Linked DNA regions of Homo sapiens. The protein of the gene in region 5 interacts with the protein of the main gene of each other region in a biochemical or structural test. Each region holds a gene or a part of one and is shown on either strand. Other genes may lie near its edges.

Evidence for each region.
Region 1: of the proteins of GTF2A1 (region 5) and TAF1, one has a biochemical effect on the other in vitro, tested with the Homo sapiens proteins (one study listed by BioGRID).
Region 2: of the proteins of GTF2A1 (region 5) and FAM20C, one has a biochemical effect on the other in vitro, tested with the Homo sapiens proteins (one large-scale study listed by IntAct).
Region 3: the proteins of GTF2A1 (region 5) and NCOA6 form a complex in vitro, tested with the Homo sapiens proteins (one study listed by BioGRID).
Region 4: the proteins of GTF2A1 (region 5) and TAF4B form a complex in vitro, tested with the Homo sapiens proteins (one study listed by BioGRID).

Annotation. Positions count from the first base shown.
Region 1 is NC_000023.11:71,376,357-71,382,708, forward strand, and holds part of TAF1 (transcription initiation factor TFIID subunit 1), read left to right. Parts: intron 1-593; coding exon 594-835; intron 836-1,246; coding exon 1,247-1,465; intron 1,466-1,878; coding exon 1,879-2,097; intron 2,098-2,467; coding exon 2,468-2,675; intron 2,676-5,386; coding exon 5,387-5,563; intron 5,564-6,179; coding exon 6,180-6,307; intron 6,308-6,352. UniProt on the Homo sapiens protein: The TFIID basal transcription factor complex plays a major role in the initiation of RNA polymerase II (Pol II)-dependent transcription.
Region 2 is NC_000007.14:197,756-204,107, reverse strand, and holds part of FAM20C (extracellular serine/threonine protein kinase FAM20C precursor), read right to left. Parts: exon of another isoform or gene 3,425-6,352; intron 1-3,424. UniProt on the Homo sapiens protein: Golgi serine/threonine protein kinase that phosphorylates secretory pathway proteins within Ser-x-Glu/pSer motifs and plays a key role in biomineralization of bones and teeth.
Region 3 is NC_000020.11:34,740,572-34,746,923, reverse strand, and holds part of NCOA6 (nuclear receptor coactivator 6), read left to right. Parts: coding exon 1-117; intron 118-3,582; coding exon 3,583-6,352. UniProt on the Homo sapiens protein: Nuclear receptor coactivator that directly binds nuclear receptors and stimulates the transcriptional activities in a hormone-dependent fashion. Coactivates expression in an agonist- and AF2-dependent manner.
Region 4 is NC_000018.10:26,273,563-26,279,914, forward strand, and holds part of TAF4B (transcription initiation factor TFIID subunit 4B), read left to right. Parts: intron 1-1,100; coding exon 1,101-1,262; intron 1,263-1,368; coding exon 1,369-1,491; intron 1,492-6,352. UniProt on the Homo sapiens protein: Cell type-specific subunit of the general transcription factor TFIID that may function as a gene-selective coactivator in certain cells.
Region 5 is NC_000014.9:81,190,646-81,196,997, forward strand, and holds part of GTF2A1 (transcription initiation factor IIA subunit 1), read right to left. Parts: intron 5,597-6,352; coding exon 5,463-5,596; intron 2,195-5,462; coding exon 1,874-2,194; intron 1-1,873. UniProt on the Homo sapiens protein: TFIIA is a component of the transcription machinery of RNA polymerase II and plays an important role in transcriptional activation. TFIIA in a complex with TBP mediates transcriptional activity.

The DNA.
Region 1 (6,352 bases), on a different chromosome or scaffold from region 5:
GTTACAATATTGGTTACTTATCAGAAAGTAGGGCCAGGTGTGGTGGCTCACACCTGTAATCCGAGCACTTTGGGAGGTGGAGGCAGATGATTTGAGGTCAGGAGTTCAAGACCAGACTGGCCAAGATGGTGAAACCCCGTCTCTACTAAAAATGCAAAAATTTAGCCAGCTGTCGTGGCGCATGACTGTAATCCCAGCTACTCAGGAGGTTGAGGCAGGAGAATCACTTGAACCCGAGAGAGAGAGGTTTCAGTGAGCTAAGATCTCACCACTGCACTCCAGCCTGTGCGACAGAGCAAGACTCTGTCTCAAAAAAAAAAAAACAACAAAAAATCGGAAAGTAGTAAATGTAGTAATAGTGTTTGTTTTCTCATCACAACCCTAGGGTACCAGGTACGTGGTGAGTTGGGGGACGATGGGAGATAACGAGTTAGAATGAGTTTTCTGGGTTGCATACTAGTATTATGATTTGGGTGCTTGGGCCTATATCTCCTGGCATTGAGCCATGTGTATAGCCTAAAGTGGGTGTTTGCGGAATTCGAGGAAATATGTTCACAGTTACATGCCAAAGGGGTTTCTCTTCCTTGTTGCAGTGTCTGAAAATGGAGAAGGCATCATCTTGCCCTCCATCATTGCCCCTTCCTCTTTGGCCTCAGAGAAAGTGGACTTCAGTAGTTCCTCTGACTCAGAATCTGAGATGGGACCTCAGGAAGCAACACAGGCAGAATCTGAAGATGGAAAGCTGACCCTTCCATTGGCTGGGATTATGCAGCATGATGCCACCAAGCTGTTGCCAAGTGTCACAGAACTTTTTCCAGAATTTCGACCTGGAAAGGTACATTCTGTGGAGAATGCTCAGATTGCAAACCACTGACCTCTTCCAAATAATGAGTTTTGTTGTTAAGATGCTGAGTATGGAATGGGGTTTCCTTACTCAGTGACATATTATTGGCTACATAAGAGCTCTTCACACTGTATTAGGTCTTTTTTTTAAAGTTGTATGTATTGATAGTAAATGTGATTTATGCTGTTCTCATTGGAAATTTCTCTGTTATCTTAAAAGAACTAGCCCAAATTATTAAGGAACGCTTCTTTACTTTCTTAGACGTTACAAGTCTGAATGCGACACTCCTTTGTTTCTCCCCCACATTTGAAGAGATCTCTCAAGGGAGTTTTCAGGCCCAGATGCTGCTGTTTTCCCATCTGACTTTGAGTCTGTGTCATAGTAATGTATTCTGTGTTCTAGGTGTTACGTTTTCTACGTCTTTTTGGACCAGGGAAGAATGTCCCATCTGTTTGGCGGAGTGCTCGGAGAAAGAGGAAGAAGAAGCACCGTGAGCTGATACAGGAAGAGCAGATCCAGGAGGTGGAGTGCTCAGTAGAATCAGAAGTCAGCCAGAAGTCTTTGTGGAACTACGACTACGCTCCACCACCACCTCCAGAGCAGTGTCTCTCTGATGATGAAGTAGGCAAAATAGAGACCTGAGATTAAGGCCTATGAGAGGAACAAATGAATTCAATGAGTTCTCCCTAATTTATGTCTAAATTGTAAATAATACCATAGCAGATAGAATCTGTGCTAATTTTCAATGAGTAATCATGGGTTCAATCTCAGTGGCTGCCCCTTCCCTATTGTAAAAGAAAAATGTTTGGTGGGGTAGGCGGGGATGAGAGGGGTAGATGGTGATATGCTGCTGAATAAGAAGGTTTGATTGATAGGTGGAATGTGCTATGATACATCTCCATTGTTTACATTCTAACTCCAGGTAAATCATCCTCAGTTTCTCTAAGTTCCCCTCCTGACTGTTAACTCTCTATAGCCTTAGGACATCTGGGATCAGGAAATTCTCCCTGCTCTACTTCTTTCTTCTGTTACAGATCACGATGATGGCTCCTGTGGAGTCCAAATTTTCCCAATCAACTGGAGATATAGATAAAGTGACAGATACCAAACCAAGAGTGGCTGAGTGGCGTTATGGGCCTGCCCGACTGTGGTATGATATGCTGGGTGTCCCTGAAGATGGCAGTGGGTTTGACTATGGCTTCAAACTGAGAAAGACAGAACATGAACCTGTGATAAAATCTAGAATGATAGAGGTGAGCAACACTGGTATGTAAGAAAGGAATCAATGTACTCAGGTCCTATTACTTTTACTAACTTTACTCTTTAATTGGGGAGATACTGGGTGGTAGGGTTTCTTTGGTGGGAGATTGAGGTGTCTCAGCCTTTTATTTGGTATGGTGTATCACCCTGGTAGCTAGGTCCTATTCTAAGGATTCTGTTTGTGAAATGAATGCTGTGCCAGACTAGGAGTGGGAAGAGGCAAATATTCCTCCGTTATCAGGTGGTTGTTTCAAGTAAAGGACCACTTACAATGTGTCTGATGTATCTTTAATGTGGAATTTGGAGTGGAAACCTTGACCAGTGACCAATCAAGGATGTGTTTTTTCTTCCCTACTTACACAGGAATTTAGGAAACTTGAGGAAAACAATGGCACTGATCTTCTGGCTGATGAAAACTTCCTGATGGTGACACAGCTGCATTGGGAGGATGATATCATCTGGGATGGGGAGGATGTCAAACACAAAGGGACAAAACCTCAGCGTGCAAGCCTGGCAGGCTGGCTTCCTTCTAGCATGACTAGGAATGCGATGGCTTACAATGTTCAGCAAGGTGTGCTTCTGTGCCAGCTGTGTCTAGCAGATACTGCCCTTAATCTTAGTCACCATAAGTGGGCTCAGCTGTGATTTTTTTTTTTTTTTTTTTTTTTCGGTGAGACAGAGTTTCGCTCTTGTTGCCCAGGATGGAGTGCAATGGTGCAGTCTCGGCTCACTGCAACCTCCGCCTCCCCAGTTCAAGCGGTTCTTCTGCCTCAGCCTCTGGAGTGGCTAGGATTACAGGCGTGCACCACGATGTCTGACTAATTTTTGTATTTTTAGTAGAGATGGGGTTTCTCCATGTTGGTCAGGCAGGTCTCGAACTCCCGACCTCAGGTGATCACCCGCCTCAGCCTCCCAAAGTGCTGGGATTACAGGTGTGAGCCACCACGCCCGGCTGGCTGTGATGTTCTGAGCTGCCAAGAGATAGTGAAATTTTTAGGATCTGAGGCCTAATTCTAGTCCCTGTAATTTTTATTTTATTTTTATGCTCAACCTGGAGGAAGATAGTCCATGTAATTTTTTGCCCTGTTAAGAAGCTAGGCCAGACTCAGGTTTCTTAAAAACATGTGATAAAGATCTTTTTTTTTTTTTTTTTTTTGAGACGGAGTCTTGCTTGCTCTGTTGCCTGGGCCGGAGTGTAGTGGCGCAATCTCAGCTCACTGCAATCTCTCCCTCCTGGGCTCAGGCGATTCTCCTGCCTCAGCCTCCCGGGTAGCTGGGATTACAGGCATGCGCCACCATGCCCATCTAATTTTGTATTTTTAGTAGCGATGGGGTTTCTCCATGTTGGTCAGGCTGGTCTCGAACTCCCGACCTTAGGTGATCTACCTGCCTCAGCCTCCCAAAGTGCTGGGATTACAGGCATGAGCCACCACGCCTGGCCTGAAGTTAAAGATCTTTCTGAACTATAACAGTACTTTATAGTATATTTTTGTTCCCAAGTCCCTTTGTATTTAGAATTCTAGTTTCCTATTTTTCTCCTTAAATAGGTTTTTTTTTTTAAGGTATGCCATGATTAATGTAAAAAACTTTGAAAATACAGTATAGTGTTAAAGTCACTGGTAATCTATCTGGAGATTATCAACTGTTAAGTTTTGGTGTATTTTCAGTGTTCTGTGTGTGTATGTAGTTGAGCTCATTTCCGTATGTACAGTTTTGCATACTGTGCTTTTCACTTACTAAATATTTTTCTCTCTTTCATTTTTTATTTTTCATTGTTGAGACAGGGCCTCACTTTGTTGCCCAGACTGGTTTCAAACTCCTAGACTCAAGTGATCTTCCTGCCTCGGTCTCCCAAAGTGCTGAGATTACAAGCAAGAGCCACCCCACCCAGCCACATAAATATTTTTGTGTCATTTAGAGTTCTTTATAAAAATGTTTAATGACATGGGAAACTCGTTCATTTTATTTTAATTAAATTATTATTTTTTGTAGAGGTAGAGTCTTGCTATTGTTGGTCAGGCTGGACTCCTGGGCTCAGGTGATCCTCCTGCCTCAGCCTCCCGAGTAGCCAAGACTTCAGGGGCATGCCACCACGTCTGGCTTGAGAAACTCATTTTAAATGGAAATAAAGAAGATATGAAACAACATATATGATATCCTATTAGTGTAAATGAAAAAAAGCAGACTATATAAACATAGAAAGCTGGATTACTTTTATATTTTGGAGGAAAAACAAAATTTTTTCTTTTTTGAGACAAGAGTCTCTGTCGCCCAGGGTGGAATGTGTTGGCGCGATCTTGGCTCACTGCAACATCTGCCTCCCAGGTTGAAGTGATTCTTGTGCTTCAGCCTCCCGAGTAGCTGGGATTATAGGCGTGCACCGCTGTGCCCAGCTAATTTTTGTATTTTTAGTAGAGACGGGGTTTCACCAGGTTGGCCAGGCTGGTCTTGAACTCCTGACCTCAAGTGATCTGCCTGCCTTGGTCTCCCAAAATGCTGGGATTACAGGCGTGAGCCACCACACCCGGATACAAAAATGTCTGATTTTTAAAACCTAAGAAATAGGTTTTTTCCCTTCCATTCTGCCCACTTTATGGGTTATATATTACTATTACGAATGTTTCATAATTTACCGATAACATGTTGCATTTGTTAATACAATTTATTACCATTTATTGTTAGCATACTTTACCATATCATTTATTGTCATAATTTAACCAATTCCTTCTTAAACATTTAGGCTATTTAAATTTCAACTATTATAAACAGTATTGCAGTGGACATTTTTGACTGCAACATTATTTTTATTTATTTATTTTTTGAGACAGAATTTCACTCTTGTTGCCCAGGTTGGAGTGCAATGGCACGATCTCAGCTCACTGCAATCTCTGCCTCCTGGGCTCAGGTGATTCTCCTGCCTCAGCCTCCTGAGTAGCTGGGATTACAGGCATGTGCCACCACACCCAGCTAATTTTTGTATTTTTTGTAAAGATGGGGCTTCTCAATGTTGGTCAGGTTGGTCTTGAACTCCTGACCTGAAGTGATCCACCTGCCTCGGCCTCCCAAAATGCTGTGATTACAGGTGTGAGCCACCGTGCTGAGCCTGCAACATTATTTTAAAGTGAGAAATACACTGTGTAGGTTCCTTTTCAGTGGACACATGAATAACTCCACTAACTCGCTCTACTAACATGAGTAACTCTTTTTATCTTTGCCAGAATCTTGATTGAAAGGGGCATAAATGTTTTCTCTGTTACTATTTCCTCCTTGCACTTTGACTAGGTTTTGCAGCCACTCTTGATGATGACAAACCTTGGTACTCCATTTTTCCCATTGACAATGAGGATCTGGTATATGGACGCTGGGAGGACAATATCATTTGGGATGCTCAGGCCATGCCCCGGCTGTTGGAACCTCCTGTTTTGACACTTGATCCCAATGATGAGAACCTCATTTTGGGTATATTACTGGCAGAGGCCAGTGTTTCTTCTCCTTTGAAAACTTGCTGTTAATGTCAACGGGCAGGAGGAAATCAGAAGGGTTGGAGATGATTAGGACTAGAAACCTGTAGGTAGCGGCTTGAGAGAGCGAAGTTTTGGCTGTTAGTTTATATTATTTGTGTATATGCTTAGGGAACACTCACGTAGGAATGTTGGAAAGTTGCAACTTTGAGATGTCAAGAGCATAGTTTGTTCCGTTAGTGAATCATGGACTCGAAACTTCTAGGTAGCAGTTTGAGAGAGCAAAATTGTGGCAGTTAGTTTTTATTATTTGTGTATTCCCTAGGGAAAACTCATGTAGGACTGTCGGAAAGTAGTACCTTTGAGATGTCAAGCGTGTAGTTCACTTAGTGAATCATGTACTAGAAGTGATTTGGGATGGGATGAAAAGATACAGGTGTAGTTCAGTTAGTAAATCGTGGACTAGAAGTTACCTGGGGGGGGGTGGGATGAAAGGTCTAGTTAAGACCTTCACTGGAACATCCGTCACCTTAAAGAAGAAAACTGGATACTTGTCTGTAGGAAAGGTGAATCTTCAGGGAGAGCAACTCAAGTGATTTTTGTTTTATTCTCAGAAATTCCTGATGAGAAGGAAGAGGCCACCTCTAACTCCCCCTCCAAGGAGAGTAAGAAGGAATCATCTCTGAAGAAGAGTCGAATTCTCTTAGGGAAAACAGGAGTCATCAAGGAGGAACCACAGCAGGTGTGTGAAGAAAAAAGGGGCTTGGTGTTTAGAAGAACAAAGAAA
Region 2 (6,352 bases), on a different chromosome or scaffold from region 5:
ATGCACGGATGGGCGCCTGAAGCTTGGTAGTTTTCTCCCAAAAGTAAAACCGTGGTTGACTTTAGTTTTCTGTTTTTTCCTTAACTGTGCTTTCTAAGTTTCTGCAATGAATAGTGACTACATTTTTTAGTAAGATAATAACGAAGTGACGATGAGAAAATTAGTAGCCGGATTAAGCCCCATTTGATGCCCCCATTTCCATTAGTAACTGGGGTCACAGGATTTAACAGTTCCTTCCTGGCTCAGGTGCGACAGCTCATCAGCTCCTTCCAGGGCTTGTAATCCCGGTTTGTAAAATAACAACATATTATCCAAATCTGGTCAGTTCAGTCCTTCTTCGTCTGGAAGCAGGTCCTATCTTCCTGGCCCCTGTGCTCAGCTGTGAGGCCAGCTCCTCCCCATGGAGCAAATAAACAATTAGAAATTAAAGGCATGAAGATCTCACAGCGACTGAGGACTCGGCTTCCTGTGGACCGTGGGCCCACCACTCAGTCTACCAAGTGGGTCTTCTGCTGAAAGACATTTGGAATTCTGCTCTAAAATCAGATACAGTCTCCTTGCAAAGACCGACACACAAGCTGCCCTGCGTCTCAGGCCTTCGGTGCTCATCGGGATGGGTGGGAGGTACAGACGCCCACCCTCCTGTCACTGATCGGGTCACCCCTGCCCTCCCACCCAGGAAGGGGCCAGCAGGTGGCAGAGCCAGGACACAGGCCAGGCCTTGAAAAAAAGGTGCAATTTTGGGTTTTCTTGAAGATAGACCAAAGTTCACGATGCTTGGAAAGCTCACCTCATTGGTGGGAGAAGCCCAGGCGTGTGGGCACAGGTCCTGGGGACGGGACTGACGGAGACGCCCTCCCAGATGCAGCCTCCCGTGCCTCCAGTGGACAGGGGTCAGTCAGAGCCTGCCCAACCCCAGCCTGGGGAGGGACCCACTGAGAGCTGATCCCTCTGATGCCCATGAAGCCGGCTGAGGCGGGGGCATCCTGGCACAGACCCCAAAGTCACCCCACACCGTGGACAAGTCTCAGAGACTCACCTGCTAAGCCCTCTCCCACCTACCACCTTCCCTCCATCTCCCTCTACACCTGCCCCTCCCCTGAAATCCAGGCCATCATGAAACCAACAGCACAATCAAACCCCAGTGGGCCTCTAGGCCCCAATTCCCAGTGCAATAAAAACATATCATGCAAATCTGGTCAGTTCAGTCCTTCTTCTGGAAACAGGTCCCGTCTGCACTGCTCTAATGGCCACCCGTCCTCGCTATGCACACAGGAAGATGTCCACGGGCCCCATTCCCCAGTGCAATCCCACCCAGCAGCCACCCATTCTCTCTATGCACACTGGAAGATATCCATAGGGCCCCCCCATTCCCCAGTACAATCCCACCCAGCAGCCACCCGTCCTCGCTATGCACACGGGAAGATGTCCACGGGCCCCATTCCCCAGTGCAATCTCACCCAGCAGCCACCCATTCTCTCTATGCACACTGGAAGATATCCATAGGGCCCCCCCATTCCCCAGTACAATCCCACCCAGCAGCTACCCGTCCTCTCTATGCACACGGGAAGATGTCCACAAGCCCCATTCCCCAGTGCAATCTCACCCAGCAGCCACCCATTCTCTCTATGCACATGGGAAGATATCCATAGCGCCCCCCCATTCCCCAGTACAATCCCACCCAGCAGTCACCCGTCCTCTCTATGCACACAGGAAGATGTCCACGGGCCCCATTCCCCAGTGCAATCTCACCCAGCAGTCACCCATTCTCTCTATGCACACTGGAAGATATCCATAGGGCCCCCCCATTCCCCAGTACAATCCCACCCAGCAGCCACCTGTCCTCTCTATGCACACGGGAAGATGTCCACAAGCCCCATTCCCCAGTGCAATCTCGCCCAGTGGCCACCCGTCCTCTCTATGCACATGGGAAGATGTCCACTGCCTTTCAAATAGGTTCTCCCCATCTGGAACGCTCTCCCCTTCCTGCCACCTGCCCTGAGCACCTCCCACCACTTAACCCACCAACTTTAGACCAAAGGTGACAGTCTGCTTCTTCCCCGGCCTCGCTGAAGAATCCTATCGCCCGGATATCCGTCAGTATACAGGACTCATTCCTATTGATTCATCATTATTAATCTACGTCACTAGTTAACATGGCTAGTTAATGTGATTAACGTGCACTAGTTACACAAGTTAACATGCACGAACAGAGTGCCCTGTGCCTTCATTATTTCATGTTGCTGTCAGCACTAAGAGTTCGGGGCCACACAGACCCTCGGACGCCACTGGGTTTTGCCCACAGTCTCTCCCCGGGTCACAGCACGAGACAGAGGCGATGTTCGTATGCAGTTGCCTCCTCAGAAGGACTCCAAGAGATGCTGGCATTTCTTATGAAATAAGCGTCTTACATAGAAAGATGGCTGCTGTCACAGAAATACTAATGGACTTTGGTGCCAGGCCCCAATCGGTGTGGCCTTAGGCAAGCCACATAACCCCAGACAGCTCCGGCAACCCACTGGGAAGCTCTAGAAGGAAGAACCCAGAGCAGGTCTGGAGAGACAGGGAGAGACGGCCCTGAAAGAGAGAGGTGTGTGGCCCGGGCCTGGGGGTCCCAACACCCCGCAGGGTGCTCATGGGGATGGAGACTGGGTGCAGCCACCACTCATCCTTGGTTTCTCGTGGGAGCAGGAACCCTTTCTAACAACAACCCCAACCTGACTTTAAATTAACCAGTTCCACCTCCTACAGACCTGTGGACCACAGAAACACATCCAGGTGTGAGATGCTGCCGTCAGCGTGGGCCCCCATGTTGCCGCCTTTGGCCCTGGTCATCTCGTCCGTCAAGAGGGCCAGCGTCTGTCCTTGGGGGTCACGGTCAGGCGGTCCCCCTGCTCTTCACAGCCACTGTCTGGCCTCAAGGGTCAGTTATTCCTGAAGACGAATGGGGACAGCTGTGTGTGCTGGAAGTAGGGCCTCACCCAAAGAGGGCTCAGATGTGGAGAATGTGACACCGGGAGAGCTCAGGTCACCCTGTTCTTCCCACCGCACACATCTCCAAGCCAGAGAGGTCTGCTCGGTGTCCCAGACCCCGGGTGCCCACACCCAGGCTCATATACCCATTCACCCTGGGCACCGAGGGACCTGGTTTTGAGGAAAAGGACATAGTTGGCCAGCAGTGGGCACCCTGGGGCTGGCATCAAGGAGGCTAGAACTGTGGGAACCTACTGCGAGGTAAGGGGCTGGAAGAGCTGGGAGCCTGCACCTGCTCTGGACCTGGATCTGCCAGTCCTCGACTCTCCTGGAGGCCTCAAGTGACAGGCAAGGCCCCATCAGCACTGCCCAAAGTCCCGTCCATCACACACCACCCTCAGGACACTTTCGCCAGAACCGCCTCCACCCCAGACTGTTATTTATTCCACGATTTTCTTCAAGGCCCCTTTTATTTTGAAAGATCTGTTTTTTAAAAGAAAACTGCAGCCTTGCCCCAGTGGGGACCATGTCTGCATCAGAAGGAAAGTCGGCAGGTGCGCATCGGGGCACACTCCTGCAGCTAGGGGGCTGCTGTCTCTGCTCAGCACGGGGAGGCCGGTGCCTGGGTGGCCCCAGGCCTCAGCAGCATGAGCTTTTGCTCCTCACCTTCCACCAGACGGCTGGGAAGGGAGTTGAGTGCGGACTGAGCTATTTGCCGCCTCCTCCAGGCTCCACTTGAAATCGTCCTTTGCAGGTGGTCATTGTCCTTCTTTCAGGATAACCCAAGGTCCCCCAGCCCTGGGGCCATGGGCGTCCAGCTAATTGGGCATCTTCCCTTTTCTCTCTCTAGGCCGGCCGAGCGAGGCCCTGGGACCGTGACCTGCAGGGGCAGTTGCCACCTGGGGTGGGTGGGAGGGGGAACAGTGGCCTTTCTGGAGCTGGCGCTGCCTTCCAAGGAGCCCTGCTCCCAAGGAACAGACACGGTGGCTGTGCCCTCCCAGGTACCTGCAGGCAGCTCCCTCTCGTGGGCTGACCCAGCGGAAGCCCTTTGTTCCTTGAAGCTCACCCGCTGGTTAGTCCTGGATTCTAGCTGGACTCATTCTTCCCCTTTTGGCAGATCAATCAGTGTCAAGAACTTTGGTCCTGCAGAGTCATTTTTCTTTGTTCAGGCATGTTCTCCCAACCACAGTCTTTGTCCCAATCTGGATGGAGCAATTATGAAGTCTGTATTTCAGTCCAGAAGCTGCCCGAATCCTCACATGCCAGTGGGATGTCATTCATTCTTTGCATCCATAATTGTGCATGATAGAAATTTAATTATCGCCAGCCCCAGCCCAAGGCACTGCATGCCCGATTTCAAGCTGAATAGAGGTAGATAATATCCCAAGACTCTTTAAAGGTGGCAATGGCCGGTTACCAGGCAGCCAGGAGCCCAGCTATAAATAAACCTCCGCTGGCCCTAACCAGCTGTGCTGTAGACCACGTGGCGCTCCATGAATTGGATTGGGTGGTTCTGAGCAGGAGAGATTTAATGGAACCGTTCCGAGGGAAGGCTTTGGAGACTCGCAGGCATCGTTCTCCATTACAACAATATTTCTGGGCTCACGTTTAATAGTAAGATGAATGACTTGAGATTAAAGTGAGCACCCAGGGGCCGGACAGCTGAGGGGACAGAACTCAGAGCCTGGAGCACGCAGGTGCTAATCTCGGACAAGCCTCCTGCCCTAAGAGCCTTGGTTTCCCTCGCTGTGGAGCGGTGGTTGGAAGGCAGGGCTGGCCTTTGAAGGCTACCCCTGTTCTTGGTTGCAGGACCTGTCTAGGGGCACCAGGCTCTAAACCTGCCTGATTGGCTTGGCCACGCCAAGGGCCTAGCCAGAGGCTGCTATCTCAAGCAGCTGGGTCTTCACCCAGATCCTCCAACTGGAAGTTCGTACTCAGAAGGGCCCTCGGAACAGCCGTGGCTGAGTCAGGCCAGCCAGGCAGCAGCAAGCGGGGTCAGCAAGCAGGTCAGCCCCCTTCTAGGACAGATCACATCCTCCTGGCCTAGGCCAGCCCTCTTGTGCCGTTCCCTGCAGACCAGGAGACCTGGACCTGGACATGGAGCAGCTCCCATGGCACACTTGGTTCACAGGTGAGGGTCCCCTGCTTCCTCAGGAAGACAGACCTCTTCACAAATGAGAACTCACCTGTGAGCATCTCCAAGCCCAAGGCAGCAGGGAGAATAGGGCCCAGCATCTAGACTGAGACCCTCATGAGGCTCAGGCACCTGCCCAGCCCTGGCTTCCCCAGATGAGAAGGATCAGCCCACCTTGAAATGCTGCTGCTGTACAAAGACCCCACCCAGTAGGAGAGCTTCCCCCAAAATGCTGCAGTGTTGGAGACCCTGCCCAGCAGGTGCGCTGTCAGGCTCCGCTCTCACCTCTTTACTCGTATTTGCACATTTAAGCCCCAACAACCCTGTGAGGCCAGATGTATTTGGGAACTGCAGGTATTTCGATGACAAAGGCACACGTGGTGCATGGTGTGGATCATGGCATGCCCACACGGGTCTAGGGCAGAACCCCATAATTAAACCCACTCCTGTTCCTCAGAGGAACATGTGACTATTCAATGTAACAGAGAAAAATCAGGACTTTTAACTAGCCTCGACAATTTAGGTTTTGCCCCTAAATACGTTCAGCCTGAGTCAGTTTTCGCTAGTGAATGGGTTTTGCTTGGCATTCAGATTTGTAAGTCAGAGTCCAGATTATACCAGGTCCAGATTATAACCTTCTCTGTGTTCTCGGTGAGAAACCAGGTGCTGGAGGCGTTAATCCATTTGCCCACTTCCACTCTGGCTAATGGCTGGCAGAGCCAGGATTCACCCCCAGATCTCCTGGGCCAGAGCCTGCTGTCCTGCCTGGGTGATGCGGCTGTGTCTGCCCATCGTCCTTGCAGGCCCTGCTTGGCCCTGCAGAATGACTGAGCAGCCAGCCTGTCCTTGGACGGGTCCCCACCCCAGAAGACTGGATGAGAACCAATGTGGCCAGCATGGTCTAGGAGGCGAGCGAGCGAGATCAGCTGGGGCAGGCCTTCAGTAGGCACAGGAATTAACCAGGACACACCCAGGCGGAGGCCACACCAGAATCCTGGGGTAGGGATTCCCTGGCAAGGGCTCTGTCCACACCCCTGCAATGTCAGGCAGCCTGGGCACCACTGCCCCGGGACAGCTGGACCAAAGAGGGGTGGCAGTGAGCCAAGCCTAGCTTGTCCAGATGGACAAAGCACTCCTAAGGTGGGCAAAGATGCCCCAGGTCCCAGGGGGCCCCACACTCTCCCTGAAGCTGCTCTGGGAGCTCCTGGCACAGAACTCCCACACCTCTTCAGTGTTGGTGTTGGA
Region 3 (6,352 bases), on a different chromosome or scaffold from region 5:
CAGATACTCGCCCAGCTGGTCTGGAAGAGGCTGATCAGCCACCGTTGCCTGGAGAACAAGGAATTAACTTGGATAACTCAGGCCCTAAACTGCCAGAATTTTCAAACCGGCCACCAGGTGATAAAATGTTAGCTAGATTATATACTTATTACATGTGCATGTGGCATTACAAGGCTTCCATGTCTTCAAGGAAACAATAGTATTTTATTTTATCTGCTAACTAGTCTACTTCAGTGATTTAATGTGTCTGGTATTTGGAAGCTTTGCCTTGATATTAAGTAAAAATTTCAAATATAACTTTTGAAGGCACATACACACACACATTCTATTCAAATTTGTCTTTGTTATTTTAAGTCCTCATAAAATCGGACTGAAATGTGGTTGGGCATGATGGCTCATCCACCTGTAATCACAGCACTTTGGGAGGCCAAGATGAGCAGATCGCTTGAGCGCAAGTGTTCAAGACCAGCCTGGGCAACATGGTGAAACCTTGTCTCTACTAAAAATTTTTTAAAAATTAGCCAGGTGTGGTGACACGCACCTATAGTCCCAGCTACTCAGGAGGCTGAGGTGGGAGCATCACCTGAGCCCAGGAAGTCGAAGTTGCAGTGAGCCATGATCATGCCACTGCACTCCAGCCTGGGACCCTGTCTCAAAAAAAAAAAAAAAAACCATGAAATGTGAAGTGCCTCTTTATTCTTGTCAATGTCAAGATTCTAGTTGGCATCAGAACAGGATAAGATTAAATGGAGAGATGATTTCACTCTAATCCTGCTTGCCTGCCTTTCCTGCAGCGTTTCTTCCTGGGGCTTCTCAAAGCAGGGAACTACCAGGGTTTAAAACAAGATGATCTTTTTTATAGAAGTTTCATTAATGAGTCTTTAAAATATAAAGAAGATATAAAGAATAAAAGAGACACCCATGTATCTACCACATAGGTTAATAATTTATAATAAATAGGACCAATATTGGAAGCCCCCTTTGTTGTATCCTCTCTGATTATAAAATAATACTATCCTTTAAATGTTGAAAAATTATGTCAAAGATGGAAAAGCTCCTAAAATTAATTCATTCAAACCTAGATATTATAGAACCAAGGCCAGCTGCCACAATATCTCTATACCTGGTTATCTTGGCCTGAGCAATGACTTGTAACTTTATTCCCCTATGACACGGTTGAAGATACACAACCCTTCACACTTAGGCCACTCTCCCCTGTGTGTACAGAGGGTATGTTTTGTTTCTTCCTCACTAGTTATTTCAACTTCTTTTTGGCATGAAAATGAGAGCGACATTATTTTAGGAGTAACCTTTAATCTACCCCTAATTTATGTATTTTAAAATTGAATCCAAACAAAAAGCTAAATCCATCATGATATCAATACTTTGTGTTATTTATTACAAATTATTTGGGCATATCACACTTCCCGTCAGTGAGATGCAGCAGCATAGCTGAGACTGGGAGGTCATCAGTCTTTGGGGAGTATGTCCAGAAGGCATTGAGAGCAGGAACATGCCTGCTTGCCTCAGACACATCTGAACTCTTCTTATAAGAATCCCAGGGGTCTTTGTATACATTTATTGCCTTCTTTCTGCAAACTGGGGGCCTGCAGGCTGAATTTGGCCTATAATGGTTTTGAGTTGCTATGCAGTGTCTTAAACAAAAGTCCGAGTTTAAATGCCTTTAAATAGGGCATCTGCTCTGCAGTTTGGCACTGTTGACAGGACTCCTGCTGTCTTATACCAGTCCACTTCTATTCTCTACTACCTGCCTGGCCCCTAAAGGCATAGGAGTTTGCATTCCCTGAGTAATAAATTCAGTTTGTGATTGTGTTATGGGCACTATGTGTGTCCTGGCTTTCCCTCTTCACCATTCTGTCACGTCAGCCCCAATCTGTCTTATCATTAGTGCCTTTTGGACTGCTGCCTCCAGCTTCTGGACTCTGTAGCAGCCATGCCCTTAACTGTTACTTTTGAGAGGCTGCTATATTGTCTATGCTGTCCTCTTTGGTATTTACTGTCTGGTGGGCTGATTTTAAAGATAAAAGGCATCCATGTCATAACCCTGACATCAACAGGCTTTTGTAGCAATTACAAATTTCTTAATGTGGGAACCCCAGACTGAATGTGAAAAATAGGAACCCACTGTATTTGACTATGTAGTCGAAAGGACAGTTGAACCATAGAAATGCCATGTTATTGGCTTTATAAAGGTGAAGAAGTTACTCGGGCCTAAAATAAAAAAGGATTTTTTTAAAAATCTTCAAAACTGGATTCTACACATTGTATTCATTGATACCATGGAAATCTTTGGCCAGAAGACATTAATTGAGTGCTGAGTCTGACCCACAAAATTTGGTAGCTGCTCTATGAAAATGTTGAGTCAGCATTTCTTTTGACTGCCAGAGCCAGTTGTTCTTATTCCTACACCTTCTTAAAACCTCCCTAATGTACTCTTCATGCAACAATGGAATAAATCTAGTTTGTGGAACTGGAATTGTATCCCATATATGCCCAGCTGTATGCCCACTTTTTCCCACAGAACCACCGTTATTCTTGGTTTGCGTATCTTTTTATCTTTTCTGATTGTAAGGTTTTGGTTCTAAAATGCCAAGTAAAATCTTCACAAAAAAAGAGAATAATTTGAGATGTTGCCCTCTGCATATCTAGAAGACATTGTCCTTCAGAGTTCTTTTCCCAAAATTATTTTTTATTCCTGAGGGCTATGCTTCTGCCTTACTTATTCTCCAGCTGTGGATTCATGGAAAATATTTCTCCAAATAGAGATTTGCATGTAAGAAAGTAAGTGCAAATTAATATCCATAAAAACTTCAATGCCCTAATTTTATTTTCAATGTGTATATCAGCTTCCATTAGCTCCTACTGTTTATTAAACTGATTTACACCTGAAGGGCAATTTTAATTCAGTCGGTTTCCCCCAAAGGATTAAGCCTGAAGGATGCGGCGTAGTGTATGGAGCCAATGAATTGGAATAATTTTAAATTCCTCTTTCTTAAGGAACTGAATCCTAGAATTTTATATTTTACTTCTGTTGAAAGAATAAAAAGGCTGTCTTCAGTGCTGTTATTTTCAACAAAACCACATCTTAAAAAAATTATTCCTGTGCTAACAGAAGAAGTGAATCCTAAATGCTTTACTTCATTCACAAGTACATTGAAATATTGATTATGACTACATGAGACCTGAATCTTGGGTGGCCAGGCACTTGATGTTGATGGAGTTTTTCTCATTTCATCTGAATGTTTGGCTGGTATAGACACAGCCATTTTCAGTGCATAGCACAGAAAATCAGGCTCTTAGTACAGTCATGGCTCATTCAGATCCTACACACCGAGGAGCTCCAGGTTTTTTGATGCTTTGCTTTTTGCTTCCTTAAGCACTGTGCCCCTTTTGCTTATGTCAAGTAATGAGGGGCTGCCCCCTGCCCCAGGAGTGGGCATGCCTGAGCTGTTTGTGCATAGTCTGTGCCACCTAGATGAGTATTGCTTGGCTATACTCTAAAGGTAGCAACATTTTCTTGCTGAAAAATCTAACTTCCCTAATTTGGGGGGCTTGTTTTAGGTTATCCTTCTCAACCAGTTGAACAGAGGCCACTTCAGCAGATGCCTCCTCAACTCATGCAGCATGTGGCACCCCCACCACAGCCACCACAGCAGCAGCCACAGCCACAACTGCCTCAGCAGCAGCAGCCACCACCTCCCAGTCAGCCACAGTCTCAGCAGCAGCAGCAGCAGCAGCAACAAATGATGATGATGCTCATGATGCAGCAGGATCCCAAATCAGTTAGGCTTCCAGTCTCTCAAAATGTCCATCCTCCAAGGGGCCCCCTGAACCCCGACTCCCAGAGAATGCCCATGCAACAGAGTGGCAGTGTGCCTGTCATGGTCAGTCTGCAAGGACCTGCCTCCGTGCCACCATCACCTGATAAACAAAGAATGCCAATGCCTGTGAATACTCCCTTGGGAAGCAATTCAAGGAAAATGGTCTATCAGGAGAGCCCGCAGAATCCTTCCAGCTCGCCACTGGCGGAGATGGCCTCACTCCCTGAAGCAAGTGGCAGTGAAGCACCATCTGTCCCAGGAGGCCCAAACAACATGCCTTCACATGTAGTACTTCCCCAGAATCAGTTAATGATGACAGGGCCAAAACCTGGACCATCGCCCCTTTCAGCAACTCAAGGTGCAACTCCCCAGCAACCCCCTGTAAATTCCCTGCCCAGCTCTCACGGCCACCACTTCCCAAATGTGGCTGCGCCAACCCAGACATCTAGGCCCAAAACACCAAACAGAGCCAGCCCCAGACCCTATTATCCTCAGACACCCAACAACCGCCCTCCCAGCACAGAACCTTCAGAAATCAGTCTGTCACCAGAAAGACTCAATGCCTCCATAGCAGGACTCTTCCCTCCACAGATTAATATTCCTTTACCTCCTAGGCCAAATTTAAACAGGGGCTTTGATCAACAAGGCCTAAATCCAACAACTTTGAAGGCCATCGGGCAAGCACCTTCAAATCTTACCATGAATCCTTCCAATTTTGCTACCCCACAAACTCACAAATTAGATTCTGTGGTAGTGAATTCTGGAAAGCAGTCTAATTCTGGAGCAACAAAACGGGCAAGTCCAAGCAACAGTCGCAGGTCTAGTCCTGGGTCCAGTAGGAAAACCACTCCAAGCCCTGGGAGGCAAAATTCAAAAGCCCCTAAACTTACTCTGGCCTCTCAGACAAATGCAGCCCTATTGCAGAATGTGGAGTTGCCGAGAAATGTATTGGTCAGTCCCACTCCTCTGGCCAATCCCCCTGTACCTGGGAGCTTTCCTAACAACAGTGGGCTGAATCCTCAGAATTCTACTGTGTCTGTGGCTGCAGTTGGGGGTGTTGTTGAGGATAACAAGGAGAGCTTGAATGTGCCTCAGGACAGTGATTGCCAGAATTCCCAGAGTAGGAAGGAACAGGTAAACATTGAACTAAAAGCAGTCCCTGCCCAAGAAGTTAAAATGGTTGTCCCTGAAGATCAGTCCAAAAAGGATGGGCAGCCTTCGGATCCTAACAAACTTCCCAGTGTCGAAGAGAACAAAAATTTGGTGTCTCCTGCTATGAGGGAAGCACCAACATCGTTAAGTCAACTTCTTGACAACTCTGGAGCTCCCAATGTGACAATTAAACCCCCTGGGCTTACAGATCTGGAAGTAACACCTCCAGTAGTTTCTGGGGAGGACCTCAAAAAAGCATCTGTCATTCCCACACTGCAGGATCTGTCTTCTTCTAAAGAACCTTCTAATTCCCTAAACTTACCTCACAGTAATGAGCTGTGTTCATCCCTTGTGCATCCCGAATTGAGTGAGGTCAGTTCTAACGTTGCACCAAGCATCCCTCCAGTAATGTCAAGACCTGTTAGCTCTTCCTCCATTTCCACTCCCTTGCCCCCAAATCAAATAACTGTATTTGTCACTTCCAATCCCATCACAACTTCAGCTAACACATCAGCAGCTTTGCCAACTCACTTGCAGTCTGCATTGATGTCAACAGTTGTCACAATGCCCAATGCGGGTAGCAAGGTTATGGTTTCTGAGGGACAGTCAGCTGCTCAGTCTAATGCCCGGCCTCAGTTCATTACACCTGTCTTTATCAATTCATCCTCAATAATTCAGGTTATGAAAGGATCACAGCCAAGCACAATTCCTGCAGCCCCACTGACAACCAACTCTGGCCTGATGCCTCCCTCTGTTGCAGTTGTTGGCCCTTTACACATACCTCAGAACATAAAATTTTCTTCTGCTCCTGTACCGCCTAATGCCCTCTCCAGTAGTCCTGCTCCAAACATCCAGACAGGTCGACCTTTGGTCCTTAGCTCACGAGCCACCCCTGTTCAGCTTCCTTCCCCTCCTTGTACGTCTTCTCCAGTTGTCCCTTCTCATCCCCCTGTGCAGCAAGTGAAAGAATTGAATCCAGATGAGGCTAGCCCTCAGGTGAACACCTCAGCAGATCAGAACACTCTTCCCTCTTCACAGTCAACCACAATGGTTTCTCCCCTTTTGACCAATAGTCCAGGGTCCTCTGGCAACCGGCGAAGCCCAGTCTCGTCTAGTAAGGGCAAAGGAAAAGTGGACAAAATTGGCCAAATTTTGTTGACCAAGGCATGTAAGAAAGTTACAGGCTCTCTTGAGAAAGGGGAAGAACAATATGGTGCAGATGGAGAGACTGAAGGCCAAGGGCTAGACACCACAGCTCCGGGGCTCATGGGAACAGAGCAGTTATCCACAGAGCTGGACAGTAAAACCCCAACGCCCCCAGCACCCACTCTGCTAAAAATGACCTCTAGCCCTGTGGG
Region 4 (6,352 bases), on a different chromosome or scaffold from region 5:
AGAAAATTTTTTTCTAGAGACAGGGTCTTGTTAGGTTACCCAGACTGGTCTCGAACTCCTGTCCTCAAGCAATCCTCCTGGCTCAGCCTTCCAAAGTGCTGGTATTGTAAGTGTGAGCCACTGCACTTGTCCTTCTTCCCATTTTTTACCCTCAGAACATTCTTGTCTAGTACATATTCCAGTCTCTCTAATGTGGGAGATTTTATTGTACATTCAAATTCACCTATCTTGACTATTATAGAAGGAAATTTTCTTGAAGGTGATTGCAACTTGACCTTTTTGTGTTGCATGCTTGTAGAACATAGACATTTAAATTAAATGATGGTGCATTGTTCAGTTTTCTGTGTGAATTGTATGTAAATACTATTCCTTATCCCTGATCCCCAAACTTTTATTATGTTCTGTAACTTTTAGTGTTTGTCTTTAAGATTGTTGCTTTATCTCAATGTGATTTTCTAAATTACTGCCTGACTTGTGATTGCTTGTATGAGGTTTTTGTCCTGTAGGTGATGCTAGCTAGAGTCACACCTCATTTTGATAGAAGGTAGAGAAACAACTGAAATTCTTTTCAGTGTGAATATAAGATACCACGTTTTATAATATTCTTCATGCTTACTTTAATGGTCTACATAAAAGCAGTTTATCTAAATTTTAGATAATAAGTAGATTGCTCTGCTTTGTTCTTAAGAAAAAGCAGAATATTCTATGTTCTCATAAAGACTTTCAGATACTTCTTGGAGTATTAATAATATTTTTTGAGGACTTATTTGCTTTAGCACTGTTTTTCACAAAAAATCCTAGGACAGCAGGTACCGTTGCAATCCCTATTTTTGCAGAGAGTAATCAGGATTAGCAAGATTAAGTAACTTGCCTGCAGTCAACACTTGGTAGGTGGTAATGAAATAGTAGATGGGGTGAGAATGAAACCCAGATCTGCTAGACTCAAGAGTTCCTAGAACTGTATTATATTGCCTTAGACTACTAGAGCATAACATAAAACCACAGATGTCAAAATTAACTTGTCTGATGAGTGTGAAATGAGGCACCCACTAATGTATCATAGTAATACATGCCTAAATATTTAATACCTTTAATTTCAGTCTGTGGCTGTGCCAACCAGTGTCGTCACAGTTACTCCTGGAAAGCCATTGAATACTGTAACTACCCTGAAGCCTTCAAGTTTGGGAGCATCATCCACTCCTTCAAATGAGCCCAATCTTAAAGCAGAGAACTCAGCAGCTGTTCAGATTAATCTTTCTCCGGTAAGCTCTTACTTGCACCTTACATAAATCTTGTTCCTTGCAAGTTCTTTTGAATTGTTTGCTCACTAACACTTGTGTTTGCTTATATTTACATTTTCATATTTAGACAATGCTAGAAAATGTGAAGAAATGCAAGAACTTCCTTGCAATGTTAATAAAACTAGCATGTAGTGGATCACAGTCCCCAGAAATGGGGCAAAATGTGAAGAAGCTGGTGGAACAACTTTTGGTAAGTAGTGCTATAAAATCCTGCAAATTCTGGAGGAATCCATATAACATGTTGTAATTGGGAAATGCATATTTTTAAATGGGATTTATTTAATTTATTTATTTATTTAATTTATGTTTTGAGACAGAGTCTCGCTCTGTTGCCCAAGCTGGAGTGCAGTGGCGTGATCTAGGCTGACTGCAACCTCTGCCTCCTGGGTTCAAATGATTCTCCTGCCTCAGCTTCCTGAGTAGCTGGGATTACAGGTGTGCATCACCACGCTCGGCTAATTTTTGTATTTTTAGTAGAGACGGGGTTTTGCCATGTTGGCTGGGCTGGTCTCAAACTCCTGGCCTCAAGTGATGCACTTGCCCTGACCTCCCAAAGCGTTGGGATTACAGGCGTGAACCACCAAGCCCGGCCTGAGATTTATTTTAAATGTAGTTCTTGATAAATTTTGTTTTTTGCTTCTTGAAAGCTTTGTAAAGACTATAAATCTTGGCTAGAAAAACCTATTGTATATTTCTTTTGAAAATTTACCTTTTTAAAAAAATTGTATATGTTTAAGGTATACAACATGATGTTTTGATATATATATTATTTCTGTACATCAGTCTTGCCTCCCTTACTCTACAAAGGGCCTTGGAGAAAAGGTTCATTATTTAGTCAATAGGAAATTGTTATTAGAATTATGAAATCTCTGCTGGGCACAGTGGCTCATGCCTGTAATCCCAGCACTTTGGGAGGCCGAGGCAGGTGGATCACCTGAGGTCAAGAGTTTGAGACCAGCCTGGCCAACATGGTGAAATCTCTTCTCTACTAAAAATATAAAAATTAGCCAGGTGTGGTGGCGCACGCCTGTAATCCCAGCTACTTGGAAGGCTGAGGCAGGAGAATGGCTTGAACCTGGGAGGCAGAGGTTACAGTAAGCTGAGATTGCACCACTGTACTCTAGCCCGGGCAACAGAGCAAGACTCTGTCTCAAAAAAAAAAAAAAAAAGAAAAGAAAAGAAAAAAGAATTATGAAATCTCAGAAAGCCAGGCTATCAATAGATAATGAAATTCGGTTCTTATATGTCCAGATAGACACCAAGCTTTGGGACCACAGAAGTTAGTTAATGCTCTTAGGCCTCACTTTCCTTATCTATAAGATTCTCATCTTGCAGATGAGAATGTTAAACATGATGATCGTTGATGTTTATATGAGTGCCAAGATGCTGTGTCTTTTAGCTACCAAATTATATGCCTTTGGTTTCTTACATCCTCTTTCAGGTAAAATATGTAGGTGCACTAAAAAGAGTGGAGATAGAAGTTAGCAAATATTTCATATTATATGCTTAAGACATGCTGAGGATATAACAAACAAATGGATTTGGATTTTTTGAACTACTATAATATACAGATTTCTCTCACCACGTAATTAGAATTATATTTTTCACATAAAAATTATCCCTTTTTCCAAGTATAAAATGTGTATATTTCAAATATTATACAGCAAAAACAAGCATAGTTTATAAATATTAAAATACCTTCTTTACTACTGTTTTTAATGCTGCCTGTAAGATGTTAGAGCACACTTGAAATGGTTAGTTTTTCATTTGGGAAGATGTTTTTATTACAGATGTCTAAAATACCTCATACTAACAAATTTTTAATTCAACTTACGGGTGTCTTTTTAAAAGTAAACATTGAGCTTTTGATCTTCCCTTTTCAAGGTATGCTAGTTTTGAAAGGGGATATGATGACTTGTTTCTCTGAAATGGAATACTCTAGATGAAGAGACCTGTTGGAAATGAATACGTATCCCATAAAATATTAAAGACTTTTTAACCACAAAACATATGTGTGAATTTTATGGACAGATAGAAACAGTTAGGAATTAAATATTACCTCTAGTTTTAAGATCTGTTTACTTTAGAACGACAAACAGCAGTTCTAAAACATTTTGGTTTTAGGATACCTTTAAATTCCTAAAACTTGAGGACTCCCCAAGGCATTTTGTTTTTTGTGGGGTTAACATTAAAACTGAAAAATGCTTAACTTTTTTTATTGAAAAAATTTTTTTTTGAGATAGGGTCTTAACTCTGTCACCCAGGCTGGAGTGCAGTGGCGTGAACAAGGCTCCCTGCTTTCTTGACCCTCCTGGGATCAAGCAATCCTCCCACGTCAACCTCCCAGGTAACTGGGACCACTGACATGTGCCACCACACCTGGCTAATTTTTTGATTTTTTTTGTAGAGACAGGGTCTTGCTATGTTGCTCAGGCTGATCTCAAACTCCTGAGCTCAAGTAATCATCCCACCTTGGCCTGGCGAAGTGCTAGGATTACGGGCATGAGCCACCGTGCCCAGCTTGTTTATTAACAAATAACAGTAAACCCATTAAATGTTAACACAACTGACATTTAAGTGAAAACCGAGTTTCAAAACAACAACAGAATTGAATGAGAAGAGTGGCATTGCTGTACCAATTTTGCAAATCTCTTTAGTGGCTGACCTAATGGAAAACAGCTGGATTCTCATATCTTCTGCATTTAATCTGTTTTGTGATATGTTATTTTTTTGGGAGTATTTGGAGAATATCTGGTCTTGTGAAGAGAGGTGGTTGGAATAGTGATTATTTTTTTAAAAATAGCTTTTCTCCAGATCATGGTGGATATTCTTTAGAGTCTACTGGTTTATCCTGCATGCTGAATGGATCTTTTACCCACGTATGATTTTTGTAATGACATTCATTGTTCATTGGGAAAATACTGGTTCACTGAGTTATGCAGATCTTTCAAATGTTTCCAGATTTATTATTTAAGATATCAAAATAACATGCTCATTAAATTCACCAACCTTATTAGAAAATTCTTGTACCAGGAAGCTATCAAGCTCAGAATAGTTGTTACACATTTTTCAAAATTGTAATTTTGGCTGGAGAGCTTTAATTTTTATCATTAGCAACAAATGCTATCCATTGTTTTCTTTACTGTTAGTGGTTTAGTTTGTTGTTGAGAAAATATCTAACAAATACCCAAGTCTGAATAACCACAATTGCTTTGCCATTCTTTTCAGTAAAAATGGAAAAAAGTGGCTAGTTTAGCGACTCAATTACAGTGCTTTTCCTTGATCCTCTGACTTTGATCTGCAACAAAAATGCTCCATGTATGTTTCCTATTTTGTTATATACAATATTAAAGAGGTATCTACTGAAGAGTTGAGATTTAGTAAAGTTAATTTTTACTGCTTCATCCAAGGATGTTTCAAAGTGAAATTGGGTCTATTTTTTTTTATTTTTATTTTTTAGAGTAAGAGTCTTGCTCTCTTGCTCAGGCTGGAGTGCAGTGACATGATACTAGCTCACTGCAGCCTCAAACTTACGGGCTCAAGGGCTCCTTCCACTTCACCCTCCAAGTAGCTAGGACTAAGAGGTGTGTGCCACCATGCCCAGCTAGTTTTAAAATATTTTTTTGTAGTGACAGGGTTTCACTTTGTTACCCAAGCTAGTTTCCCAACTCCTGGCCTCAAGCGATCCTGCACCCTTGGCCCGCCAAAGTACTGGGATTACAGGTGTGAGCCACTGTGCTTGGCCTTCTGTTGTTTTTTTTTTTTTTTTCTCCAAGCACATAGCACTGTAGAATGTGATGATGGCTGTTTCACTTTGCCATTGCCTTTCTTACCGGTAGTTTTACCCATTGTTGCCTTTGCACCATGTGTGCAAACATTAGCTTAGTGAAAAAGGCTTTCTCTCCAAGATGTTAGTATTAATGGAAAATAATTTAGATCACACATACCCCTGAAATGCTTAATAGTGTAAGCAATGTGTAAAGGTTCCTCAGTTCTTTGGAACTGCTGTTATGGATTTACAATGTCATTCTGAAAATAGTCTTGCAGATCCATAGCCAACATCATATTGAATGGGCAGAAGCTCGAACCATTTCCCTTGAGAATTGGAACAAGACAAGGTCTCACCATTCCTATTTAACATAATATTGGAAGTTGTAGCCAGAGCAGTCAGGCAAGAGAAAGAAATAAAGGCCTCCAAATAGGAAAAAAAAGGAGTAAAACTCTGTCTTCACTGATGATATGATTCTATGCCTAGGAAATCTTAAAGACTCTGCCAAAAGGCTTCTAGAACTGATAAACGACTTTAGTAAAGTTTCAGGGTACAAAATCAGTTTTCAAAAATCAGCATTTCTATACACCAAAAATGTTCTAGCTAAGAGCCAAATCAAGAGCACAGTCCCATTTACAATAGCCACACACACAAAAATGAAGTACCTAGGAATACAGCTAACCAAGGAGGTGAAAGATGTCTGCAAGGAGAAATACAAAACACTGTTGAAAATTCATGCTTATGGACTGAAAGAATTGATATCATTAAAATAGCCATACTGCCCAAAGCAATTGACAGATTCAATGTTACTCCTGTCAAACTACCAATGTCATTTTTCACAGAATTAGAGAAAACTCTTTTAAAATTCATATAGGACCAAAAAAGAGCCTGAATAGCCAAAACAATTAGAAGCAAAAAAAAAAAAAAAACAACAACAACAAAGCCAAGTGGCATCACATTACCTGACTTCAGACTATACTGTAAGGCTACAGTGATCCAAACAGCATGGCACTGATACAAAAACAGACACATAGACCAATTGAACAGAATAGAGAACCCAGAAATAAAGCTGCACACCTACAACTATCTGATCTTTGACATTGTCAACAAAAATAAGTAATGGGGCCTGGCCACAGTGGCTCACACCTTTTATAATCCTAGCACTTTGGGAGGCTGAGGCAGGTGGATCGCTTGCAGTCAGGAGATTCAGACCAGTATGGTCAACATGGCGAAACCCCATCTCTACTAAAAAAATACAAAAATTAGCTGGGTGTGGTGGCAT
Region 5 (6,352 bases):
GATGAAGATATCCATTAAAAAAAAAGAAAACCCACAACAAACATTAAACTTAACAGTGAAGCATGGAAAAGATTACTTTTCAGTTTAAGAAGAAGAGAAGAGTGCCTGCTATCACCACTTCTAATCAATACTGTTCCCGAAGGCTTAGCCAATGAGCCACAAAAAACTGCCGTTCTTCATATAAGATGTGAAAGTCTACACAGAAGATACAAAAGAATCTACAGATACATTATGAGGACTAACAAAAGACATTAGGACGGTGGCTGGTTCAAGGATGAATATTAAAAGCGCTACATATTTCCATCCTACCAATAAACTGGAAAAGGTAATAAAAACATGTTACTTCAAGAAGCACTGAAACTATGAAGAATTTAGGGGGAGGAAACGGGCAAGAGACCTCAATAAGCACTTCTATACAAAACACAAATATCAAATAAATATACAAAAAGAGGCTAAAACTCCTAAGTGAGGAAATGCAAACTAAAACCAAAATGAAATAATACTATTTTCTACCTACCAGACCAGCAAAAATCAGGAAGCCTGACACTATCAGGTATTGATAAGGGGGTATGGACATCTGCACAATTATGTATTGAATGGCAGAAGTGATTTGGCATTTTATTATAAAGTTGCAGATGTGCATGACTTAGGAGCCAGAAGTTCAATGTTCGGTATAAAATTTAGAGAACCTCTTGCATTTGTGTCCCCAGAAGACATACACTACAATATTTTATAACTGTTTGTAACAGTAAACAACAAGAAACAATCCTTATGTCCACTGGATTAGAAAAATTGACAAATAAAATTATGGTATATTCAGCAATGAAAATAATTATAGCTATATGCAACAACTTGGATAAACCTCAGGAATATCATTTTAAGGGGAAAAAACCAACTTGCAGAAGAATACGTAATTACTTCATTTACGTTGTAAACATGCAAAACTAAACAATATGCTATTTAGGAATATAAATATATATGGTAAAATATAAAAGCAATTAATAATCAACACAAATGTATGAGCAAAGGTACTTTGATGGCCTAGGAATGATGGGATTAGGGAGAGGCATCTAAGGCACTTTAAATAATGGAATTTTATTTTAACTAGATGGTGGGCACCAGGATGATTTTTATCTTGAAACATTTCTATTCATTTGTGTCTATTCAATATTCAATAATAAACTATGTTTTCTTCAGAAAAAAAATTACTTAGATAATTTAGAAGAACTTTGTACTAAGAAACAAAAAGACTGCATTTTAGGCTAACGAAGGCAATTAACAGTGAAAATTGTGGTGGGACAAATAGTTTTTGGAGCCTAGTAACTAAGCTGAAATAGTGAGGAAAACAAAGGCATATTTATATGCTTCTAGAAGAACACAGACATTAAGGGTACATAGGTTTTTAAGGAAGTGGTATAGAACATGGACCAAAAGGTTTTAAATATTTAATAAATTTGTGACATTTGGTTCTTGAGTTTGCTCTCTCCCCAAATGTTGCCACGCTTTTTAAATTACTGAAGCAAAAGATTAACCACATCTATTTATCTACCAATGTCTTATGTTTAAGCCACATTATAAATGCGTAAGCCAGAGTTAGAATTACCTGTACTCTTTACTACACATATTAATACAATTTAATTTGTTATACATTTTTTATTACCAGCTATATGAAAGTTATATTTTATGAAGATAAATATAGCCAGAATATAAAAACCTTACTAAAGTTAAAACAATCTAACTTTATCTTTAAAATCTTATGTTGTACAGCACCTAACAGTCTCTGAAAAAAACAGGATATAATTTATCAGTGTTGTACCAACTAAAAAAGGAAATAATCAAGTAGATTATTTTAAGTATGTTACTAGAAACTTACTTCTTCCACCTGCCCATCTTCAGCTCCATCTTTCTCTTTGTCTTCCTCCTCATCATCATCATAGTCTTCTTCTTCATCTTCATCTTCTTCAGATGATGTATCCCCAGTTCCATCAACTTGTAAGACCAATGGAGCTTGTGTTTGAGCAGGCTGGGCCTGCGGTTGCTGCTGGCCAGTTGCAGTTATCTGTGCTTGGGCTGGTGTAGGTGCTGCCACTGTCGTAGGTATAACTTGAGTCTTATTTCCTGTAAATAAGATTTGCTGAGGCTGGATGATGACACCTGTCTGTGGTGAAATCCCTCCAGGAAGAGGAGCCAGCACCTAAAGCAAAAGAAAACCACATAACAGTAACTAGTTAAGAGGATCAAGTATGGTACACAGAAATAGAAACAAATGCTTAAGATTCACCAGAATGGCCATATTTCATACACAGTTAAAAACTACCAAAGTACAAAAGCAATTAGTTTAACTAGTGTAGTGACCCATTAAATTTCTATTTTATCAAATTTCTAGAAAATAAGGATTTTCTAAAGATAACTGCTTCATTTATTGAGCACATACTATGTATATGCCAGCTACCAGGACAAAAGTTATACACTGCCTTCACATGAAGAACACTGGACTGAGAATCTGAAAACCTGGGTCTACCTTTTTTTTTTTTTTTTATAGATGGAGTCTCGTTCTGTCACCCAGGCTGGAGTGCAATGGTGTGATCTCGGCTCACTGCAACCCCTGCCTCCTGGGTTCAAGCAATTCTCCCACCTCAGCCTCCTGAGTAGCTGGGACTACAGGTGCGCGCCACCATGCCCGGCTAATTTTGTTATTTTTAGCAGAGACGGGGTTTTGCCATGTTGGTCAGGCTGGTCTCGAACTCACGACCTCATGATCCGCCCGCCTCCCAAAGTGCTGGGATTACAGGCGTGAGCCACAACGCCTGGCCAACCTGGGTCTACTTTTGTCTAAAGTCAGACATAAATACAGCAGACGCAAGTCATTTAACTCCTCTTGGCCTCTGTCGTTTCACTGTCAAACTAGGCTTAATGGTTCTCAATCCTGGCTGCAAATATGAACCACCTGGCAACTTAAAAAGTACTGATACCTTGGCCATACCCCTAATATTCTGACTCAGTGTGAGATAAAAGCTAATTATTTTTCTAAAAACCACCAGATCAGATTTCTGAAGTTCCTTTCCAGGTTCTGCATCTAGGATTCTAAAGTAAGCCACAACTTGAAAAAATATATACTAACAAATATTAACTATATGTATTATAATAAAGGAGGAGGACTAGATGCTTGTTACTTGCCATTAGGTTCAAGGAATGCAAAAATAAGACACAGTATTTCCTTTAAAATGCTTACACGTGGTGTAACAACACAAAAGACAAAAAAATGGTATAATAGACAAAGCACTAACAACTCAAAAACACAGCAGATGTAGTACAAATATGACACAGTGTTATGGGAACACAAGAGAGTGTACCAAATTCAACTTAGGGGACAAAGCATGATCAAATATTACTTATATTATTAGTAAGTAGTTTCTGTTTGTGCTTAAAGGCAGCGGTCCCCAACCCCTGTTAGAAACTGGGCTGCACAGCAGGAGGTGAGTGGTGGATGAGCCAGCATCACCACCTGAACTCTGCTTCCTGTCAGATCAGCAGCAGCATGAGATTCTCATAGGAGCAGGAACCCTACTGTGAACTGCACATGCAAGGATGGAGGTTGTGCACTCCTTATGCCTGATGACCTGAATTAAAAGTTTCACCCCGAAACCATCCCTGCTGCCCAGTACATGGAAAAATTGTCTTCTGCAAAAACCAGTCCCTGGTGTCAAAAAGCTAAGAGACTGCTGCTTTAAGGAGATTAGCCAGGTTTTTCTATTTGTTTGGGGGAAGTGCAGGGAGTTGCCAGACGGCATTCTTAAGAGAAGTGTAACATCAAGTGAAACCCAGAAGTGACAGCAGTACATAATTTTGGAAAGATGTAAATAAACTGGATTAATAGTACTGCTCTGATCTTGTCTCTATCATAATACTATTTTACTGACATTTAAAAAAGAGACAGACACATAAACATATAAAGTACATAAGTTCCTCAAGAAAATAACCATTCCTCTTTCATTTTAGTGCCACAGCACAAGAATATAACACAAGTAGATCCAAGTGTTTATTTTGATGTAAATGCAGCTAAAGAAAATAACTGGGAGCATGGCAAGAAATAAACCTGGAGAGTTCAAAGAAACAAGATCCACAAAAAGATTTTATAAACCATGTTGAGTTGTTTAGGCTCTTCTCAGTAGGCAATGAAAAGCTGTTAAAAGTTTTAGGATTTTTAGAAAGATAGGCCAGGCACAGTGGCTCACGCCCATAATCCCAGCACTTTGGGAGGCAAAAGCGGGCAGATCACCTGAAGTCAGGAGTTCAAGTCCAACCTAGACATGGTGAAACTCTGTCTCTATTAAAAATACAAAAATTAGCTGGGCACAGTGGTGCGTGCCACTAATCCCAGCTACTCAGGAGGCTGAGGCAGGAGAATCACTTGAACCCAGGAGGCGGGAGTTGCAGTGAGCTGAGATTGCGCCATTGCACTCCACCCTAGGTGACAGAGACTCTGTCTCAAAAAAAAAAAAAAAAAAAGATGACTATAAATCAGCCAGGTTAGGAGGGCAAAAGATGAGAGGCAGAGAAACCATTAAGAAGACAATGCAGCATTTTAGTGACAAATCATGGACAGTATGAACTAAGGAAATGAAAAAAGAGGCTGAGAAAAAAACAGTGTCAAACATATTAAGGGACTGCAACCATGGCAAAACTGCAGTTAAAGAAAAAAAAAAGGCCGGGCGCAGTGGCTCACACCTGTAATCCCAGCACTTTGGGAGGCCGAGGCGGGTGGATCACAAGGTAAGGAGATAGAAACCATCCTAGCTAACACGGTGAAACCCCATCTCTACTAAAAATACAAAAGTTAGCCAAGTGTGGTGGTGGGCGCCTGTAGTCCCAGCTACTTGGGAGGCTGAGGCAGGAGAATGGCATGAACCCAGCAAGCAGAGGTTGCAGTGAGCTGAGATCGCGCCACTGCACTCCAGCCTGGGTGAAAGAGCAAGACTCTGTCTCGAAAAAAAAAAAAAAAAGAAAAGAAAAACTATTAACAAGAATTGGTAGGGCTTGATACCTTGGGTATTAGAGGTAAGGAAAAGGGAGGATTCTACACACCCACTTCCAGTAAGCATCATAAAACTAGAGTCATGTCTGTGTCATTCACTCCTAAATCCCCTGACCCTTGTGAATACCCCGAGACTCAGTAACTGCTTATTGAATAAAGGCTGAATGACCAGCTTAGGAAGCTGGAAGGAGAGTGCTGCCACCTTCGAGGGGATGATGAAGGATGGGCAGAGACAACAGTAATTGTTTAATACATGTTTAATACATGCTGAATCTAAGTTAAGCTGTATACAGGAGAAATTTGAAACAACTGGGTCTGTAGCACTGAAAAAGAGTCTTTTGTGCATATAAGGAGAGGGAAACTACCCAGGGAATACATACAGAATAAAACAGAACCCCATACTGATCATAATAGAAGATTATTTTACCTGCTGTATAACAGGAGCTTGTACTCCACCAGGCTGCATTTGTGGTATAACCTGTTGTTGTAGAACCACTGACTGCTGAGGCTGAAAGATATATTGGGCACCATTGGCTGCTCTGACCACCTGAAGAAGCTGGCCTAAAGCAAAAAGCATGCATTCCGAGTTATCATTTTAGCAGTGACCATCTCAAAAGAAATGAATTCATATTTAATTTCATACCACCAAAGGCACAAGAAATTATCAAGAAAACTAACAATTTTATTAAAGGTTGTCATTCATACACAGTATGCATAATCCTCCCCTTCTCTGACTTCTCGCCATGTTCAAATACATTCCTTAAAATGTTTTATTTTTCATATTTACATCCTCATTCAGCTATTTCCAACAAGGTTTTAACAACAGATTATGAGACTTGACTAAAGCTTACATTATCTTTGCTAACCTTAGGAGTGAAGAAAGAGCAGTAAGATCAGACACTTCGGGAGCTGTTCATTTTTAAAGCTTTAAAGGAACAAAAGCTTAATAGCTCATTTAATATCTTGAACCAAACAAAGCACCAAAGAACTTTGCTTCAAAATTGGTAAAAGCAATAAAAGTTCACAGAACCAGTTATCATCATTGTCATACAATTCACACAGAATCAAATTCCCCCAATATGTTCCTTTAGACAACCCAGAATCTTGAATTGATTAAAAAGCAAATTACATCTTATTAAAATATGTAGCAAGACAAGCCCCTAATTTCACAAATTTACAAATTAACAAAAATAACATACACAGAATAGAAAATAAATAATAACTATATAATCAAGATTATAGGGAACACTTAAAATCCATGTAAATAAATTTTTCAAGCACCAATATGCCAAAACACATGAGCTAGACATTGGTCTT